3 linked regions of the Homo sapiens genome follow. The protein of the gene in region 2 purifies or fractionates together with the protein of the main gene of each other region. This does not show direct contact. Each region holds a gene or a part of one and is shown on either strand. Other genes may lie near its edges. The genes, in order: CCDC12, LDAF1 and SLC44A1.

What was found.
Region 1: the proteins of LDAF1 (region 2) and CCDC12 purify together in Homo sapiens (affinity purification with mass spectrometry; one large-scale study listed by BioGRID and IntAct). This does not show direct contact.
Region 3: the proteins of LDAF1 (region 2) and SLC44A1 purify together in Homo sapiens (affinity purification with mass spectrometry; one large-scale study listed by BioGRID and IntAct). This does not show direct contact.

Annotation. Positions count from the first base shown.
Region 1 is NC_000003.12:46,970,159-46,973,810, reverse strand, and holds part of CCDC12 (coiled-coil domain-containing protein 12), read left to right. Parts: intron 1-3,652.
Region 2 is NC_000016.10:21,175,545-21,178,417, reverse strand, and holds part of LDAF1 (lipid droplet assembly factor 1), read right to left. Parts: intron 1,282-2,873; coding exon of another isoform or gene 1,260-1,281; exon of another isoform or gene 1,257-1,259; coding exon of another isoform or gene 1,184-1,256; exon of another isoform or gene 1-1,183. UniProt on the Homo sapiens protein: Plays an important role in the formation of lipid droplets (LD) which are storage organelles at the center of lipid and energy homeostasis. In association with BSCL2/seipin, defines the sites of LD formation in the endoplasmic reticulum.
Region 3 is NC_000009.12:105,243,113-105,246,864, forward strand, and holds the start of SLC44A1 (choline transporter-like protein 1), read left to right. Parts: upstream 1-1,538; 5' UTR 1,539-1,756; coding exon 1,757-1,792; intron 1,793-1,906; exon of another isoform or gene 1,907-2,481; intron 2,482-3,752.

The sequences.
Region 1 (3,652 bases), on a different chromosome or scaffold from region 2:
GAAAACCTGTCTCTATTAAAAATACAAAAAATTAGCCGAGCGCGGTGGTGGGCGCCTGTAGTCCCAGCTACTTGGGAGGCTGAGGCAGGAGAATGACGTGAACCTGGGAGGCGGAGCTTGCAGTGAGCTGAGATGCGCCACTGCACTCCAGCCTGGGCGACAGAGTGAGACTCCATCTCAAAAAAAAAAAAAAAAAAGAAAAGAAGAAACATGGGAGTACAGATACCTGTTTGAGTATCTGCTTTAAATTCTTTTGGGTAGATAGCCAGAAGTGGAATTACTGGATCATATGGTAATTCTTGTTTTTTTTTTTTTGAGATGGAGTTTCGCTCTTGTTGCCCAGGCTGGAATGCAATGGTGCAATCTCAGCTCACTGCAGCCTCCGCCTCCTGGGTTCAAGCAATTTTCCTGTCTCAGCCTCTCGAGTAGCTGGGATTAATTTTTTTTTTTTTTTTTTGAGATGGAGCTTCGCTCTTGTTGCCCAGGCTGGAGTGCGATGGCACGATCTCAGCTCACTGCAACTTCCACCTCCTGGGTTCAAGCGATTCTCCTGCCTTAGCCTCCCCAGTAGCTGGGATTACAGGTGTATGCCACCACGCCCAGCTAATTTTTTATTTTAGTAGAGACAGGGTGTCACCATGTTGGTCAGGCTGGTCTCAAACTCCTGACCTCAGGTGATCCACCCACCTCGGCCTCCCAAAGTGCTGGGATTACAGGCGTGAGCCACCACACTGGGCCTTTTTTTTTTTTTTAAATTCGGGTGATGTCAGGTGAGGAGAAGGGAGATCAGTCTCAAATCTGTCTTTTCGACGAACTAAAATCAGGGGTTTATATAGCAGGGAGAGGAATGTAATTATGTGTAGGGAAAACAGCTGGATCATATGATAATTCTGTTTAGCTTTTTGAGGAAACACCATAGTGTTTTCAGTAGTGGCTGCACCATTTACATTCCCAGCAGCAGTGTGCAAGGCTTCCAGTTTCTCCACATCCTCCCCAGCACTTATTATTTTATTTTCTTTCTTTCTTTTTTTTTTTTTAAAGGAGTCAGGAGTCTCACTGTGTTGCCCCAGGCCGGTCTTGAACTCCTGGGTTCAAGTGATCCTCCTGCCTTGGCCTCCAAAAATGCTAGGATTACAAGTGTGAGCCACCAAGCCCAGCCATCTTCTTTTTTCGTTTTTTTAATTATAACCTTCCTAATGGGTGTGAAGTGGTGGTATCCCATTGTGGTTTTGATTTGCATTTCCCCAGTGATGAGTGATGTTGAACATCCTTTCATATGCTTGTTTGCCACTTGTATATATATTTTCTTTGAAGAAGTATCCAGATTCCTTTTGCCCATATTTTTAATTGGGCTCTTTTTCTTGTTATTGAGTTGTCATTGAATTGTTCATATATTCTGGATATTAAATCATTATTAGAGATGAGATTAGTGATATTTTTTCCCATTCTCTGGATTATCTTTTCATTCTCTTAGTAGTGTCATTTTTTTAAAAATTAATTTTTTGTAGAGATGGGGGTCTCACTGTGTTTCCCAAGCTGATCTCAAACACCTGGCCTCAGGCAGTCCTCCTGCTTTGGCCTCCCAAAGTGTTGGGATTACAGGTGTGAACCACCGCACCTGGTGGATAGTCTCATTTGCTGCGCAAAGAGTTTAAAATTTGATGAAGTTCAATTTATCTGTTTTTGATTTTGTTGCATGTATTTTTAGTGTCATATTTAATCCCTATAGTTCTTGAGTGATTTTTTTTATTAAGGTGAATGCCTGGGGACAGGACAGGTAAGGGTCTAACCTTTGAGTTGATTTTCCAGCCTGTGGCCCTTTCTGCTGGACCTTTTAAGTGGGGAGTCTGGTGAGGAAGTATGACTGCCTGCTGTGGCCAGATAAAACCCCTTGAGTCTCCTCCTTCAGAGAGGAAGCGGCTTCACATTTTTAGTTCAGGTTTCTGATGTGACAACAGACACCAGGATTGAGCACCTTCTCTGCCTGCACTTGGAGAGCACCTGTCTGCCCCATGAGGATGGCATCTTGCTGGTTTCCTAGCACTCAGTGGCAGGTCCTTCATTGAGTTCTTACTGTGGGCATGGTTTTGCTGGAGGCCTTAGGAATTTCAGGCATGGAGTTGGTTTTCCTCACAGTTTTATCTTTCTTCCTAACTCTCACCAGACTATAAACTCATAATTTAGTGATATTAAGACAATTCAGGGTCCTGAGGTTGTGGCAGATGGAAAGAGACAAGATTAGGGGTTGCAATGTTTCCGTGTATTATTCTGCGCAAAACTCTCTTGTAGTCATGCAGCTGTAGTTTTACAAAGACGTCCTGGTCAGCCCACCTGATGCCACTTATTAGTGAGAGGAGCAAGGCAAGAGGCTGAGGAGAGCTGGGATGTCCAAGGCTGAGGAGGGGAAGTAATGTCTCCTGGATTCCAGGATTCCAGCCCATGCAAGACCCCCTGGGGGAAGGGGATTCTGTAGAGGACACAGCACTGCCTGAAGCAGCATCTTGTAGGTCAGCCAGTTCCCGTTGACACGCAGAAAGACAGTACTGCTGGGGTTCATTTTCTGGGAAAGCCAGGCAGAGCCTGAGGAAGCTTCATGGGAAGGCAGCATGGAACTTGAGCTGAGCCACGGAGGATGGGGAAGTGGGAGAAGGTCATCGAGGTAGCTGGAAAGGAGAGTGTTCCCAGGGAGCATTTTAGAGGTGGGAACATTCAGGTGCATAGAGGTGAGAGTGGAGATGCTCCAGGGAGTTTGACAGCAAGCACTTGGCAGTGATACAGGGGCAGGGGTACAGTCTGAAAGTGCTGGACTGGGGTACTCTGGTAGCCAAGTTTTGCAAGAGCCAGGGTTTCCAGCAGGGATGGTAGCCAGCCTGGGCACACTTTTCTGTATTGTATTTGAACCTCATTTCCTGATGCTCATCCAGAAGTTCCTGGCTGGGTGAGTAGGTGAACAGTTCAAGGCTGTGTGGATGAAACTCTGGCATCTCTTTACAGTGCTGTCCGGCAGGGCAGTGTGAGGCCACTCTGTCCTCCTTTGACCTCTTTCTTCTTCAGCAGCCAAATGGAGGCTCTCTAAAGGTGATGATTAACTTGGCATAAACATGCCAAGCTTTCCTGAGCGATTGCCCTGAATTGGGCTGTCTCTTGCTGCTCTGAGACAGGGAGACTGGCTGTCTGGCTGACCAGCCCTTGGGGCTGAGGTCTGGCTGTCAAGTTGCAGGTTCCAGGCAACCAGCAATTCCTGGTTGTCACCTGGCTCTAGAGATTAGAGCAGCAGTGTTGCTCACTAGAACTTTGTGCAGTGATAGTGTTCTTTAATCTGCACTGTCTAGTACTGTAGCCATGGGCCACCTGTGACTTTCAAGCCCTTGAAATGTGGCTACCGGCCAGGCACAGTGGCTCATGCCTGTTATCCAGGGGTGTCCAATCTTCTGGCTTCCCTGGGCCACAATGGAAGAAGAATTGTCTTGGGCCACACATAATATGCAGTAACACTAATGATAGCTGATGAGCTTTAAAAAAAAAATCACAAAAAATATCTCATAATGTTTTAGGAAAGTTTACGAATTTGTGTTGGGCTGCATTTGAAGTGGTCCTGGGCCTTGGTCTGCGGGTTGGACAAGCTTGTTATAATCCCAGCATTTTGGGAGGT
Region 2 (2,873 bases):
AAACCATTCCTCCCTGATAACAAAAAACTAAGAAAGAAGCCTTTCCTTTTCTTAGTAAAGATGTAAGGAAGCTAGTTATGCTCAGGCTGGTTTGGAAGATTATGATATGGGGTAGTGAGTTTGGTGGCTCTGCAAATAAACACAGCTGCCCAGGGCCCCTACTTCTCCTGAGCTGCAGGCCCTGGAAGGTCTTGCAGTCTCCATAACCAAGCAGTGTGGTTTTGCCCCTCAGAGGCTAGCTGATCTACATAGGAGGCAGGTCAGTGTATTTGATCTAAATATTGTTTAGTTGGGTTTCATATGTAAGGGAAACTTACAGTTTTGTTTCCTTTTTCTTTTCTTTTTTAAAAATTTAAGCTGTATTATCTTTTATGTTTTAGGGCCAAAATTCCATTAAATCATGAAATAAATTATATAGCTCCTCTTCCCCCCATTCCATGCTTTCGATCATTTAATGAGGGAGTTATCTTTTTTTGAGTTATAAAGAATTCACTAATGCAGGCTGGGTACAGTGGCTTACACCTATAATCCCAGCATCTTGGGAGGCTGAGGTGGGTGGATCACTTGAGCTCAGGAGTTCAAGACCAGCCTGGCCAACATGGTGAAACCCCACCTCTACTAAAAACACAAAAATTAGCCATGCATGGTGGTGCACACCTATAATCCCAGCTACTCGGGAGGCTGAGACAGAAGAACTGCTTGAACCCAGAAGGGAGAGGTTGTGTGAACCAAGATCAAGCCACTGCACTCCAGCCTGGGTGAGAGTGAGACTCGTCTCAAAAAAAAAAAAAAAAAAAAGAATTCGCTAATGCAAGGGTTCTCAGATGAAAACCATGTTCACAATAACATGACCTATTATATGCCTTTTTCACTCACATTCTCTCACAAGGGAACAGTGCAATTTTTCAAAATATATTTGGAAGATCTGCATGACTCAATGAATTGATATTCTCCCATTGACCAATGGGTAAAGTTAGAAAATCATGCATGATAAAGATCAATTTAAAGTGTGACACAGACCTGAAGATTTCAATAAAATAGAGTAGAAAAATTTCACATTTCAGCTAACCTTTAAGAAACTATCACTTACGGAGTTTTGGTGGACTATCATAGAATATCCACAATCGTTTAAAAAAGCTTTGCCTCCCTCTCCCAACCGCATGTTAGTGATGCTAGGTCTTCTTCAAATACTCCAAACAGGACAACATAGCACAACAGAATGAATGCAGCCACACAAACGAGAAGCCGGCTGACAACTGTTAAGGCAGATATGAAAGAGATCTGTAAAATGTAAAATAATACCACTCACAAATTTCATTTTGTTTTGGAAAATATAGTTACTTTTCATTAAAATTTGTTATTTATATCAACAGGTAATATTGTTCCTTTTAAATGAATAGATATTTTTAAAATTTATGCTATGATTTCTCATAGAATAATTATTTCAGAACAAGAAACAATGAGGAAGAAAATTTTTTAAAAAGAAATAATTATTAATATTCTTTTTTTTTTTTTTTCCAGACAGAGTCTAGCTCTGTCACCCAGGCTGGAGTGCAGTGGTACAATCATAGCTCACTGCACCCCCAACCTCCCAGGCTCAGGCCATCCTCCCTCCTCAGCCTCTTGAGTAGCTGGGACCACAAGCATGCACCAGCTAATATTTAATTTGATTTAATGTAATTTATGTTATGTTTATTTTAATTTATTTTATTGTATATAGTTTTATGTCATGTTAGTTATTTATTTTATATTTCAGCTCATTTCATTTGTTTTTTGAGACAGGGTCTTGCTCTGTTGCCCAGGCTGGAGTGCAATGGTGTGATCACAGCTCACTGCAGCCTTGAACTCCTGGGCCCAAATGATCCTCCCATCTCAGCCTCCTGAGTAGCTGGGACTACAGGCACGCACCACCACAGTTGGCTAATTTTTGTATTTTTTGTAGAGATGTGGTCTTGCCATGTTGCCTAGGTTGGTCTTAAACCCCTGGCCTCAAGTGATCTTCCCTCCTTGGCCTCCCAAAGTGCTATTAATACAATTAACCACATAAATAACATCTCTTCAGATGCCTCAATAATTTTTAAGAAGGTAAAATGGGACTTGAGAACAAAAAGCTTAAGAACCTCTGCCCACGTGGAAACAATTGGTTGGCAGCAATAGGGGAAGATAAGGAGATCAAGTACAAATCCTGGATTTGTTTTTCAATTTCTTCATTGATAAGTAGGGAGTCAGATTCTGCTACTTCCTGTGGTATAATCTTTAAGAACTCACCCTGTTACAGCAGCGTTCAGAGGCAGGGAGGAATTTTATTTCAGAAGCATCACCCTCAATATGCAAAATAGGCCAATATTTCTCCTTTTACATCTTTTAAGACTGGGAGTGAGTTAGTGCCTTACGCCTATAATTCCAGTTCATTGAGAGGCCAACGGGGGAGGATTGCTTGAAGCCAGGAGTTTGAGAATGGCCTGGGCAACACAGCAAGACCCCATTTTATAAGTAAAATACAAATGAACAAACAAAAGACTAAGAGTGATCAAAGCGATTTTTGAAAAGGTGATTATGACTCCAGGGTTGATTCAATTAAGCAATCCTATAAGAGCCATCCTTGAGCAATTTTATATTATACCCACTTCACCCTTTATTTTTCAACATAGGAATAATAACAGGATAAACTTTTGGTAAGGAGTTCAAGGGCTGTTTTGTAGAAAAACAAAACTCAGGATATCAGTTCTTATAGAGCAATGGTTGGCCAAATCCAGCAAGCTGCCTGTCTTTGTAAATAAAGTTTTACTGGAACACAGCCATGCCCATGCATTTACTTCCTGGTCTGTGCTGCCTTCATGCTACGGCAACAGAGTTGACTAACTGCAGTAGAG
Region 3 (3,752 bases), on a different chromosome or scaffold from region 2:
GAATGCAGAAGAATTCAAGATCTCAATCAGTTGAGTACTTGCTGACCTAGCAGCACTTTCTTATGTTATTTAATCTTGACCACAAGCCTTTGCAGTCATCCCTGCTACCAGCATTTCACAGAAGCGGACAATGAGATTTGGAGAGATAACTCGTCCACAGTCACGAACTCAGGAAATGGCATAGGAAAACATCAATTAGGAATTCTTCTTCCCTGGCCCTTTCTGTAGCTGTCCCCTTACAGGCTACCATTCCAACTTTCCTTGGCTTAGATTCCCTTTCAGTGCATGTAAAGTCAATTTAATTCTGTGTTCTTTTCTTCCCTCTATACTTTAACTAATCTTTAAAACTTGATGTCTCATATTTGGTGAATCAGTCCTTTTGGAAGTCTCACTCCCTTGCAGCTTTGCAAATAAAGTTTTTCTTTTCTTTCCTGTGGCTGTCTTTTGAGACATTCTTTGACAAGATGAAATGACATATGAAGGCTATAACAGTGCCTGATAATGTGGGGTTTTTTTTAACATCATTATCTTTAGTTTTATTTCTTTCACTTTTTAACTGTTTTCACCTCATACTGTATTTCCTAACGACTCGTTTGGAATTGTAAATTTCTTGAAGGTAGTTACCACGTCTACTCTAACTTGTTGCTACTTCCTTGAGTCTTACTGATTTAGCAACAGGAACTTGGTAAGTCTCTTTTGCTCGCCTCTTTATTCCCAGTACTAGTCACTGGAACGTAGTGTGTCTTCAGTAAGTATTTTTAATATGAATAAATTAATGTCCCCTTATTGTTTTTTGTAGACTATCCTGTATAAGAAAGTTTAGCTTAGATCCAGTATGGCTTTGACTTGCGAGCCTGGATAACTTTTTGCCTTTTCCTCATTTCTGGCTATTTATTACCATTTCAACCTTGGGAACATTTCATTAGGTTCTTGGTCCCTTTCAAGCCTCAGTTTCCACATCAGCAAAATGGGGACAGTAGCAACAGATGCTTGTTTCTTCCCGTCTTCTTATCACCTATTCCTTCTCCAGGAAAGGTTTCTTGTGTACGCTTTCCTCTGGAGAAAAAAAACAGCCGACGGGGCGGTAAGAAGCCATCAGGATCCTGAGTTGTGCGTCCAGTAGGGAGAGGGAGAAGTCCCGCTTGCCTCCTAGATCCGGAAGCAATCCGGCCCCTTTTTGGCAGCGAGTTGGCCCGGTCTTTGGCTGCCTCAGACCGCGTTGCCCTCCAGCCTCGAGGCAGAGAGCTGCCTCGGTGCCACAGCTAAATAAGCCCGGCGCCGCGCAGCCTCTGACACGCGCGGAAGGGCCCGGCCTTGTTCTGGCTGCCGCCGCCCTGCCACCAGCACGGCGCTGCACTGGGGGCGGGGAGTCTGATGGGAGACGCGCGCGGCGCTGAGGAGGCGGCGGCCCGGGAGAGGGAGCGGGAGAGGGACTGGGCGCGGGAGGCGGGAGGCGGGGGGACAGAGGGAGGCGCCGCCGCCGCCGCCGCCCGCCCCTTTCCGCTGGGGAGCAGCTGCTGCAGCAGGAGCAGAGCAGGAGACGCGTAGCCGCCGTCGCCGCCGCCGGGGGATGTGGCCGGCGCCTGCCTCTAGCCGCGCCGCCTCTTGAGTACCAGCCGCCGCTGCAGCCGCCGCCGCCGCCTAGCCGTGCGGTGCCAGGCCGCGCCCTCCCCGGGCGCCCGCCGGCTCGCATGCCGAGGGGCTCCGGGGCGTAGCTGCGCGCCCGGCGCCGCCTCCGGGCTCCTTCGGCCCCGCCATGGGCTGCTGCAGCTCCGCCTCCTCCGCCGCGCAGGTGAGGGGCTCCCGCCTCCCGGCCGCCCGCCCGGATGCCTCCCGTGCGCCGCGTCGCGCGGCGGGCGCCCGCCGCCCGATACCTCTCGCTGTCCCCAGCCTCCCCTGAGCGCACCGTGCAGTCCAAAGACCCCCACTCCGCCTTTCCGTCCGCCGGGTCCCGCCGATGCCCGTGCGCTGGCTCCGCGGCTGCCGACTCAAAGGCGCCTCTGCGCGGCGCCTAGTGCGCCCTCAGCTCTTCCCGGCCCCTTCCCCAGTCGGCCCCCTCCTCCCAGTCACACCTGAGCTGCCCGTCCCGCCCGCCTGCAGGTAGAGGCTGCACTGGCGCCTCCTCTGCCCCAGGTGGCATCCCCTTCCCTGTTCTTCCGGGCCTGGCTCCTCTCTTCCACCTCCGTGGAGTCTCCCCGCCATCCGCCGCCCGTTTTCTGTGCTCCTCGCAGGTGTACCCCCAGCAAGAGCTCTTCACCTCTCCCACCGAATTCCAGTTTCTGCTTCATTAGATATTCTGTCCCTTTTCTCTTGCCCGCTGCCCCCTGGCTGGGTTCAGATGGTTTCAGCGGGTCCCGGAGCCCTTCCACGGCCCGCTCCGCAGACCTCGCTTGCTCGCTTGCACCCCATCCCCCCTTAGTGCCGTGACCCGGGCCCCGCGGCCTCCCCGCACTCGGAGGCCCCTGCGGGAGCGCCGACTCTGGGCTGGGAAGGAGATTGGGCACCTGGTGGGTGACGGGAGCGCTACGGAAACTCCCTCTTTGTTGCCAGTGTAACAGGAGGAAGAGGTTCCGAATTTAGTTTTTCTGTGGGCACTGGCTGAATGTTGTCGCTGAGGGCTGAGATGCAGAGATTTCTCTCAGCTTCTACCCTGCCCCCATCCAAATTTCGCCAACCTCCTTCTCTCGGATCCGAGCCCTTAACCTGGGTGGAAATGTTTAGACAACTGTACGAGGATCAAATGTAATAGAACTCGACTACTGGCCACTAATAACTGAGAGGACCTGTTTGTAAATTACCTAATTTAGTGGATTAGCGAGTGTATTTACAAATACTATAAAAAGCAATCAGGAATACTGCATCAAACTGTCTTGTGGTGGTGTATGAAAAATAGGCTCTGACAACGCCTGGGATGTAATCTCACAGTTTCATTAGCGTAGTTTCATTAACTGTGGTCTGTGATTTGTTTGTTTTAGGGGGCAGAAAAGGGCTCTTGTTTTTAGAAATAAAGGATGGTTGGTTCTTGGTGAAGAAAAACGCTAGTTTGGGGGGAAAAAATTCCTCCAGAAAGCTAGCATCTGTGATAATGCCAGAAGTGTTTTTGCTGCTGCTAAATGACTATATATAACTCAGTTTTAAATAACCTGCATACTTGTTCTGAAAATCTGAGATCTGTTAGAGAGAAAATGACTAGAATTGCAGATGAATGGGGGACATTTGTGTTTTATTAGGTATCCATCCTATCATCCTATTCCTCCAGTCTTTTTTTTTTTTTTTTGAGTGTTTGCTTACCCGTTAGCTTTTTTTTTTCCTGCTAGCATTATAGTCAGGCTTTTTGGTGTAGTTAAAGATTCCTATTCAGTTATAATAGCAAAGTAAAACTATACGTAGAGGTGTTAGGAAGGAGAGGCTTGGTATATCAGAGTTTTCATATTAACATATAAAGGTGTAGAATTGCACATAACTTTCAACTGGTTAGGAATTTGTGGGGGTCTAGTTGGGTGCTCTTTAATATTTACTTAAGTATAATTTTCACCAAAAAGGTGTTTTTCAGATTGCCTTTCTTTTCAGAATTGAGTTAATTTACATTCCCTTTTGGTGGTGAAATGCCTTTAAGACAGAAAAGTATTGATAGTTTATGGATAGCTTGTTCAGTGCATGAACAGTTAAATTTGGGAGGGATGGGTGCTGCATCAGAACTCTGCTTTAAAACCGATAGTGGGTCTTGCATTTGTCTAGCTCCACGTCATACT